Linked DNA regions of Homo sapiens: region 2 is linked to region 1. The links come from fine-mapping of genetic effects on gene expression. Tissue or cell type: whole blood. Region 1 holds a variant in brackets; the other region holds the start of a gene. All regions are shown on one strand. Distances are from middle to middle.

What was found. PIP is the estimated chance that this variant, and not a neighbour inherited with it, causes the effect.
Region 2: FAM120AOS starts here. The variant in region 1 is fine-mapped to the expression of FAM120AOS in whole blood (INTERVAL, PIP above 0.99).

The regions. Positions count from the first base shown.
Region 1 is chr9:93,318,689-93,323,879 of GRCh38, reverse strand. WNK2 (WNK lysine deficient protein kinase 2) reads right to left here. Exons shown (of 30, transcript NM_006648.4): 30 at 3,311-3,513. The coding sequence ends at 3,488. Among named protein-coding and RNA genes, the nearest start is that of FAM120A, 130 kb to the left of the region's middle. The variant AG/G (reference allele first, on the strand shown) is at 2,258.
Region 2 is chr9:93,451,198-93,456,317 of GRCh38, reverse strand. FAM120AOS (family with sequence similarity 120 member A opposite strand) reads left to right here and starts at 2,737. Exons shown (of 3, transcript NM_198841.4): 1 at 2,737-4,171. The coding sequence starts at 3,609. It overlaps FAM120A (family with sequence similarity 120 member A), which reads right to left and starts at 4,633. Exons shown (of 18, transcript NM_014612.5): 1 at 3,929-4,633. The coding sequence starts at 4,402. RefSeq lists enhancers at 2,537-2,831, 2,895-3,024, 4,604-5,120 and silencers at 3,744-3,923, 4,224-4,353, 4,494-5,023.

The sequences.
Region 1 (5,191 bases):
TGAGCTGGTGATCAAATTTGGAGGGCTTGGGCTCAAAAGGATCAACTGTTAGGAACTGCTATTGCTCCAAAGCCCTCCTGCCCCGGCCCACACAGCCTCACTGGGAGGCAGAACCAGCTGGCGGCAGCTCCGACCCCTGCAGCCCAGGACCCTGGTCTCTGCTGTCCACCACAGTGAGAAATGAATGATTCTTCACAGAGTTGCATGGGACAACATTGTCTCCCCATCCAGCCTGGCCTCGGGCAGCCTTCGACCCCCAGTGTCCTCTCAGGGTGAGGGACTCTTCTCCACACCTCTGCAGGACTGCATGAGCCACCACCAGCACAGTGATGCCTGTGGCATGTGGGCCTTCTGCCCCCTCTCAAGGGCAAGTCTAATAAAGCCAAGTTCAGGGACCACAACCACGATGTGTACAGAGTGGTCACCATTGCTGAACTCCCTTAACCACCTGGAAGGCAGGCGTCCTGGCCCAGGCTTAATTGCATCCTCTAATGAATGAAGACAGGCTTCTTCAGGTGTTTTATTTTTGTTTTTGTTTTTTTTGTTGTTGTTTGTTTTAGAGACAGGGTCTCACTCTGTCACCCAGGCTGGAGTGCAGTGATGTGATCACGGCTCACTGCAGCCTTGACCTCTTGGCCTCAAGTGATCCTCCTGCCTCAGCCTCCCAAAGCACCGGGATTACAGGCATAGGTCACTGCGCCTAGCCTTACCAGCCCTTTAGTAATAAGCACTTTTCAGAGAATTGAAGCTGTTCAGCCTGGAGATGAGGCGCAATATCACCCTGGACACTGGAAGTCTGGTTGGATGCTGGGGTCAGCTAAAAACAAAACAACACTGGAGAGCAGAGGCTGTGGCTTGGCTGCCTTGACCCTGCAGGAGGAGCTTGGACTGGCCCCAGGTGATGCTGCCTTTGCTGTCCTAGGAGAGGCCTGGCAGGGTCCTTTCCATCCCAGAAATGCTGTGATCAGAGCCAATAAGCACCCACTGGAAGCTTCATCTGCCCAAAGGAGTCTGCCTTCATCAGCATAATTCATTGCGCGCCAGCTTCACTCAGTGACTGTTTTGGAAGGTGAAGGGCTATCAGAAACAATTTTAAGTCCCTGCTTTCAGGAAGTCAAGCATAACAAATAATATGCACCCATGAGAACTCTCCATGAGGGGCTGAGGTCTCTGGGGCTCTCGTGAGCTGTCCACCCAGACTGTGTGATAGAACCCAGAGGAGGAGAGAACCCGGGACTGGGAGGGTCAAGAATGAATCCGGAGCTGGGCGCGGTGACTCATGCCTGTAATCCCAGCACTTTGGGAGGCCGAGACAGGTGGATCACGAGGTCAGGAGATGGAGACCATCCTGGCTAACACGGTGAAACCCCGTCTCTACTAAAAATACAAAAAATTAGCCAGCCTGGTGGCAGGGCTGCCTGTAGTCCCAGCTACTCAGAAGGCCGAGGCAGGAGAATGATGGGAACCCGGGAGGCGGAGCTTGCAGTGAGCCGAGATCGCGCCACTGCACTCCAGCCTGGGCGACAGAGCGAGACTCCATCTCAAAAAAAAAAAAAAAAGAAAAAGAAAAAAAAGAATATCCGGGCCCAGCTGGCACGCTGTGCAGCAGCAGTGAAGCCTGAAGCACGGACGCGTCTAGTGGGTGAGGCTGAACACCAAGAGCCTTGGATTCTGCGGCTGAGGCTTGGGGCCTTTTCCTAGCGGCCCTGGAGGGCTGCTAGGTGGTTCTGAGCAGCAGATGAAGCTGGGATTCGGGGCCCCAGAGTCCTGGAAGTGCACTGTGCAGAATCTCCTCAGAGGGTGCTGGCTTGACCATTACCATTTCATTGACCATTGTACTACTGTTTACTACCATACTACCACCAAATTTTACCATTGACATTTATACTATTATTCACTTAAAGAAAATGATTAAAATAAATGTGCAGTTTGAAAGGCAAACTGCGGCCGGGCACGGTGGCTCAGGCCTGTAATCCTAACACTTTGGGAGGCCAAGGCGGGCGGATCACAAGGTCAGGAGTTTGAGACCAGCCTAGCCAACATGCTGAAACTCCATCTCTACTAAAAATACAAAAATTAGCCAGGTGTGATGGCGGCGCACACGTGTAATCCCAGCTACTCAGGAGGCTGAGGCAGAAGAATCACTTGAACCCAGGAGGCGGAGGTTGCAGTGAGCTGAGTTTGCATCACTGCACTCCAGCCTGGGCAACAGAGCAAGACTCGGTCTCATTAAAAAAAGAAGAAAAAAAAAAAAAAA[AG/G]AAAAGGCAAACTGCATTACTATGGTCCACAGAAAACCAGTCACATGAGCCACCAACAGAAGAGAACACAAACTAAGACCAAGGGAAGCCATGTTCCTAGCACCGTGCCATCCCTGCTCCCAGCTGAGGCTTGGAGGAGGCCTACCCTGCTGATCACACGGAGAAGAGCCAGGACTCCGAGGTCACCCGCACACAGCGGGATGGCATCTCCGACACTCCCGTGGGGAAGCAGCGTCACTGTGCCCTGAAGACTCATGTTTGAGATAGGCAGGCAGCGCTGCTCCATCAGCCGGCTGGACAGTTTTACATCTCAGGGAAGGGCACTGTGTCATGGATGTAAATGGCATGGCACAGCAATATCTGTGGTGTCTAGTGGTGATGAAGTCCAGGTGCTGTTAGTGGAGGAAATGCTAAATTGCAGTTAGACATTAATGAAAATAGAGATGCAATGCTTTTTCATTGTGATGCATGGGACCCCAAATTCTCCCTAGACCTCTGGACCCAGCATAAGGCTCCTGTGCCTGCTGGCCAGGCTAGGGTGTGGGGACCTTACCACGGCACGTTTCCTTGGTGAGGCCATGTCAACATTCCTCGTTTCTCACACTTAGGACCCCTCCCACGAGTGGGGGGTATGCAGCCCTCCAAGGAGCCAGTGGTCTCAGACCTGCCACCCCACAGCCAGAGGTTTCTGGCCCCAGGCCACTGGTGTTTTCCCTGCCAGTGCAGGTGAATTCTGGAAGGAGGGTGCCTGGGAGGTGGGTGTGGGGGTGGTGGGTGACTTCAAGCCTCCAAAGACCAGAGGGAAGGGTCTGCCTCATGGAGCTCCGTGAGCAAAGGCCAGGAGGCACCCAGGACCCCGAGTCCGTGCCAGCTGGCATCGGGGGGACTTGGAGATCAGCCTCCCCGGGGCCGCCACCTCCAGGGCCCTGCAGAGAACAGGGCTATCCTGAGCATGCCAGGGTCCTGGGAATGTCCCCCCACCCCTGTCACATCCCAGTCACCTGGCTGGCCGAGGGCCACCAGAGAGGAAATAGTTTGAAAAACCAAAGTCCTTTCTGCCCCAAAATATTTTTTATTCTTGCATTACATTTGTGTTTCCAATTGTGAATAAAAAATGCTTAGAAAGTGGTTACAAAACAGCGTGAACTGGACAGGAGGAGCAGCTGGCCCTGAGGGTCCGTCACTTCTCCACTTAGACGGCGTGAAGTGGGCCTGGCGTCTAGGCGGGGTCAGTCAGGCTTCTCACTCTCAGGATCTGGAAAACAAAACCGCGCAGCTGACTGTGGGCCCACCGCAGTGCTGGCCACTCGCCAAGGGCCAGGCCCTGACACCCTCCCAGGAGCTGCCGACGGGAAGGCTGCGCCAGCTCTGCCATGACCCACGCCCTGTGTAGATGGTCTTGTCCTCAGCACAGCCCTGGCGGCCTCTGTCACCTGGACCACCCTTCTTTGTGTGACCAGTCAGCACACTGAACGGCTGCCAGAAACCCAAACAGACGCTCTGCTCCTGTACCGTCTGGAGCATCTGGGGAGTGAGCTGCCCTCCAACACCCAAAACAGGAGGCTCTGGGATGAGTGTTCCTCCTCCCTCCATGCAGAAGCTCGAAGGCTGGCACTGCAGCTCTCTGAGGAGGTGGCCCCACAGCCAAGGCAGCCCCCACAGTGGACCGGGCAGGAGACACTGGGACCCTCAGCTTGCTCACAGTGAGGCCTGCAATGCACACGCAGGAGGGACCACAGTCAGCTCGAGGCTGTCTTTAGTGGGATGCTGGGGGGCTGGCTGCCACCATGCGCTGAGTCCCACAGGATGAGGCCCCACCCTGGATGGCCACCTTCCCTAAGGCCCCTGTGCCTACCAGAAAAGCCACTGCCCCTTGCATGATCCATGGGCAACCCCAGCCCCAAGTCCTCCTCTCAACAAGTCCAAGCTCATCTGAGGAGCTCCCACTTCCCCTGAGCTCGGCCCATCTGGAGCAAAGAGGGTGGCCCCAGGGGCTGCAGCAAGTAATGCAAACCAAGCCTCCTGGAGACAGGGGCTGCAGGTGTGTCTCGCTGACCAGGAGGCTGGCTCCCTCCATCATGGTCACAGCCCGTGGCACTGCTAAGTGTAATCAGGTGCAGAGTGGTGGGCAGCCCAGCCAGCTAACCCGACCAGCAGAGCTGACCGTGCTCGGGGCCCAGGCCACAGCTGGCGGGGGCAGTGTTGGGGGCCAGGCAGCCCTGCCAGATGCCCTGCTCTCAGACCCCTGCCGGGGACAGCCCAGCCCAGCACCCGCAGCCCCTCAGCACCCTCCTCCAGAGGTGTGGATGCAGCTGAGCCCAGAACTGGCTCCCAACTCCTGTGCTCCCTAGGAGGCTGGTTGCTTTGGATTTTATATGGATAGAGGGTAAGAAAAAGATGTTGTTTCACACTGTTTTCGAGCAAAAGTGTTTATTTTTCTCCTTCAGATATACAATCTATTGGGGATTCCGTGCCACTGACCACCATGTACAAGGAAGGGATTCACAGGCAAGGGGGACAGGTGAGGGCAGCCCCCACTTCACTCAAGGAACAGGGCAAGGGGGCCCAGTACAGAGAACAGAAATCTCTTACGACAGCATCGTGCCCTGGCAGAAGATTCTGCATAATCACCTAGAAAATTCAATTCTAACTGAATTGATGGAATAATAGATTTGAACCAAAATAATTTACCCAGTTCTAATAAGTACAGAAACTATACAATTCACAGCTGGGCAGTCCCAAGCAGTCTGCTTTCCAGTGGGAGGTGGAGGAGGCTGGGGCCTTCCCCTCCCACCAAGGGCTGTGTTGTGCCCACTGGGGACGAGTCCCACTGAAATCTCCAGGAGAAGAATGACCCCGCCCTCCGCAGAGCAGGCTTAGGGCTGGACGGGAGAGCGGTCTGCATGCCAGGGGTGAGCAGAGCCACAGGTCTC
Region 2 (5,120 bases), 130 kb before region 1:
ACCACAAGTCATATAGCAGAAACATTTATGAAAGCTCCAGTGACTTCATGCCACTAAGATTTTAAAATAAACATAAGTCATTCACTGAAGTTTCAAAGGTTATAATGACCCAAGGCACACAAGAAGAAACACTGTCCAAGTAACTAGCTAAAGCCAAGTTCAAATTAGGCTATTTTAGGACCTACACAAAACTAGTCAATACATAGGCCAAAGTATTATTATTTTCATTGTTCTGGCTGTCTTTCCATGTAGACCAACTTCTAATGGTTAAAGAAATACAATTACTACTACTGAACAAAAAAATACAATTACTACTCTGTAAAAGAAATAATCTCTAAATCAAAAAAGATTTCTCCTGGCCAGGCGCAGTGGCTCACGCCCGTAATCCCAGCACTTTGGGAGGCCGAGGCAGGTGGATCACGAGGTCAGGAGCTCAAGACCAGCCTGGCCAAGATGGTGAAACCCCGCCTCTACTAAAAATACAAAGATTAGCCAGGCATGATGGCAGGCGCCTATAATCCCAGCTACTAGGGAGGCTGAGGTAGGAGAATCGCTTGAACCCAGGAGGTGGAGGTTGCAGTGAGCCGAGATCGCGCCACTGCACTCCAGCCTGAGAGACAGAGTGAGACTCCATCTCAAAAAAAAAAAAGATTTCTCTAAGCAAAGGTAACAGGAAATTATGCCCCTCTGCCAATTTACAAAACACTAGAAAGCACCAATAAGATGCTTAAAGTTTTTATAAATGTCTCATTTACTCAACATTATATATACTGAATTGTTCATGTCAATTCCTTTGCCAGTGGTTTTTACTTAATCTTAAAAAAATTATCATATGATAAAATTAACACATTTACTTTGGATGAATAGTTCTGATTTTAATGTATGGTAGCATCACCACCATCAGAATACAGAACAGTTCCATCACTCCACAAAGATCTCTCCTGCTGTCCCCTTTATGTGTACATCCTTCCCCTCCTCTACTCTCAGCACCACTGAATTGGTCCCTATCACTATAGTTTTATAATCATCCCTTTTGAACCTGGCTTCTTTCACTCAGTATAAAACCTTAATTAAATATTCATGCAAGTTGTTACCTACACCAGCAATTCCTTCCTTATTATTGCTAAGTAGTATTCCATAGTATGGCTATACTGTAGTTTAACCATTCACTTATTAAAGGATACTTTGTTTCCACGTTTGGGCTATTATGAATTAAGCTGCTATGGACATTTGAGTACCAGTTTTTGCACAAACAAAAGTCTTCATTAGGAAAATACCCAGGAGTGGAATTGCTGGATCGTATGATAAATGTATGTTTAACTTTATAAGAAAGTGCCACTGTTTTCTGGAGTGGTGGTGCCATTCTGCATTCCCACAAGCAATGTGTAAGGATCCAGTTGCTCAGCATTCTTGCTAGCACTTGGTATTGCTCATATTTTTTTCTCTTTTAGCCATTCTAATAGGCATGTAGTGATATCATGGTTTTAAACGTTTTAACCACTTTATGGGTATCTTTTATTAAATGGTATACACTGTTTCAATCCCTTAAACAGAGAATGCTGAATATTAATTTTTATGACTCAAAATCATCCTTATAGAATAAACATTGTACTACCCTCAGGGACCAAGGAAGTACATAGGGTTGTTTTCCTTTTCTTAAAATAGCCCCAGAATTATGTTTGCTTTTTATAGCTTTTTAAATCTCTCTTGTCACTTCTTGCTATTAATGGTGCTCCTGCCTCTGGCAGACTCTCCTCTTCATCCTCTTCTCAAGCTGAGTTTAGAAAATAGATAACCAAGCTTGTTAGAATTACATATGAAAAGAGGCCAGTCCATGAGTGAGAGAGCTTAAAGGATTCTTCAGTGAGGAAAGCAAAAGCACCCCCCTACACCCGCCAACCCCCCACATCACTGTACCCAAACTTCCTGACATCTTGCTTGGTTGCTGAGAAATTTCTAGTAGCTAAATCTCTTAGGCACTTTTCAAAAAGGTAAGGTTGCCAGCTAAGAGACCACCAAGTAATTGAGTTATTACAATATTCATTTTGTGCAATTCGCACTATAATATGACCCTAGGTCAATAATTAAAAGCTTAGCAAAAGCAAAATACAGACAAAATTATCCCATTATCCCGTGTCCAGAAACCTAAGTGAAAAAGACGATCTTAAATGGAGCTTAAATCTAGTTTCCTAACACTGACACATTGGTCTGAATTCTGAGCACCTACTAGGTGTGCGAGGCATTCAAAGGGGTGCAAAGATAAAGAAACTGTAGAATTAAAAAGAACTCAACAGTTCTTTAAAGATACAGTGACCATATGCATACATACTGATTCTAATCCTAAGTAATATTCACAGTGTTCCCTTGAAAGTCGCTTGACTAGTTAAGTAGAGAGCTGTGCGGTTACCAAAGGCAAGTCAGTGCAGCTCATCCTGTCTTTTAAGTAGTCTTTTCCATCTCTGAACAAGACTAAACTATGAACACTTTTACGCTCTATTAGGGAGATGGATCGCTTCAGACAAATGGCAGCACCTTACTTCCCTGAGCGCCCCAGGCTCCGATTCAGAAATTAAAAGGCAGGCACTTCCTCTCACCCGAACTTCCCTGAGGAATGGCAGCTGTGTGTCTGCCAGGCGCAGGGGCCAATCGGGACTCTGCCGGCCGCCTCCACCCACGACTTAAACACCATCTCACCAATTGCAACCGGATCGTGGGTGGGACTTCCGCTATCATTTTAGGCTTAACTACCACCATCTCCTCGCGGGCAGTGGGGGCAACCGCGAAGACAGAATTTCACAAACTTTCAGCTCCAGCAGTTTCAAGGAAATGTCAAATGACAAGATGGAAGACCGAGTGTCAAGAGCTAAGACAACAAAAAGGCCCCCAAAATTTGTTTTCAAGAAAACCAATGAAAAAAGCAAGCAATCAGAACGTGAAGTCCAGGATCATGGATGTGCTTATCTTCACAGTCACTGCTGGGTCCTGAAGTTCTCCTCTGGCCCAGTGCCAGCTGCGAAGCCCTCTGCCAAAGGGCCAGAGGAGGCCGGTGATATAGAGCTCTGATTACCCACCCGTCAGGGCACCGCTGAAGGTCACTGAATACTTACTGTGCACCCGAAAAATAAATCCTGCGAGTTCACGCCCGCGTAGTTCGCCCCCTGATTTTGAGCGACTCCTTTCGCATGGGATCTACAAAACCGAACTGCCTTAAAGACCTCTTTCACACGGACGTGAAGTCACAGAACTGACAAAATCCCATCCTGTCAAAGTGCACGGGTCTTTGAAATCTAACACAAAAAGCCATAGAAAGATTCTCTAAACACCCTGTACTAAGAGGAACACGGACAGGGCACTGCGTTCTGAAGTAGAGGCCAGGGCACTGGCCCTTAGACACGTCTCGCTGTCACCGGGCTAACAACATTGGCAAGGGCGGCGGCAGCAGCACTGATATTTGCAGCCCCCAAGGGCTCTGGCGAAACCCCCTCTATTACTCTGTATCCTGCCTGCTTCCAAGATGAACCTGTTGCTGGGAAAGAACAGGCTAAATTAGAAAAGGGAGTATTTTGTCAAAGTTGAAGGTGAGTGATAGCCTGCCCGCCTCAAATAGGATGGGAAAAACTAAGGATATTGGGGATGATGACACTGTCGCCTCCGAATTCTGGTCCGGGGCTCTCTCCCAGCCCTCAAGTGTCCCCACGCGGCCGCGGACCCCGAACAGGGACAGCTGGAGACGGGCTTGGGCAGCGCGCGGCCTGCACCCGCGGCCATCCATCTTGCAGCCCGGCCCGGCCAGGCTATCCCGGGCAAGGGCTGGGGGAACTCGCTGCCCCCAGCGCCGCCACGGCCGGGCGACATTCTGCGCCCTGGGAAGGGGGATAGGGGTGCGGCGCGGCCCCGGTCCCCGGCCCGCCCGGATCCCCGGCCTCACCTTGACGTGGAAGCGGATGAGCGCCAGGCGGATGCAGTGGGCCATGCAGACGGGCGGCAGGAACCAGACCTTTGGCGGCGGGGTGCCCTTGTTCTGGACATGGCTGACGATCTGCTGTGCCGTCTGGCGCTCGTTGCCCTGCCGCTTGACCCACTCGTGCAGCCGGGCCTTCTCGAGCGCGCCGTTGAAGAAGACGAAGAGCTCGATGTTGCCGCCGAAGCAGGCCTTGGCCAGCGCCGCCAGGTAGCCAAGCATGTGGTTCCACTGGCCGCCGCTGACCCAGTCGGTGTAGAAGCCGCCGTAGAGGCGGTGCAGGCAGTTGTCGGCGTCCACCAGCAGGCGCAGCGGGGTCTGCGGGGGCCGCTGCCGCCCGCCGCCCACCAGGCTGCCCCGGGCCAGCTTCTGCAGCTCCACCGGCACCACGGCGCTCGGGCAGTGCTTCTCGATGTAGTCCTGGAAGCCCTGCACGCCCATGGCGGCGGCGGGGGCGCGGGCGCGGGTGCGGGCGGGGGGCGGCGGGGCCGGGGGTGGTGGGGCCGTGGCGCGCGGGCGGGCTGGCGGGCGGGGGCGGCGGCCTCTAGGGGGGACTGGGGCGGGTCGGGGGCGCGCTCATGGCCGCCGCGGCCGCCATGTGCTGCCGCCTCCCAGGGCCATGTCTGGGGAGGGACCTGCCGCCGCCGCCGCTGCCGCCGCTGCGAGGCCGAGGCCGAGGCCGAGGCTGAGGGCCGGGGCGGGGCGGGCGGGCGGCGCTGACGTAGCGGACCCGCCCGGCGCGGACGCCGCCCAGGCCCGCCGGCTAGCAGGCGGAAGAGGCGGCGCCGGCGGGACGCGGCTCGGGGCTCCCGGAGGCGGCGGCGGAGGCGGAGGCCCGGAGTTGGGCCGGGACGGGATCCGGGAGGCTTCTGAGCCGGAGCAGGCAGCGCCTGGAGGCCAGAGGCCGTTCGCCCGCCTCAGGCCGGTCGGCCGCCGCTCCCCTCCCCTGCGCCCTGTTCCCGGCAGGGCCAGAGAGGCCGCCGCCTCCGCCCGGTGGTTCTCGGGCGAAGGGAAGCCGCGAAGCAGGTCCTGGGGAAGAGCTCGCCTGCTCCTGAGGGAAGCAGCGATAAGATGGCGCTTTGAAGGGGAGCCGAGGCCGAGTCACTCTGTTCGTCGGGACGCCGCCTTTCTAACGCCGCCGTCGGCTCGCACCACTCTG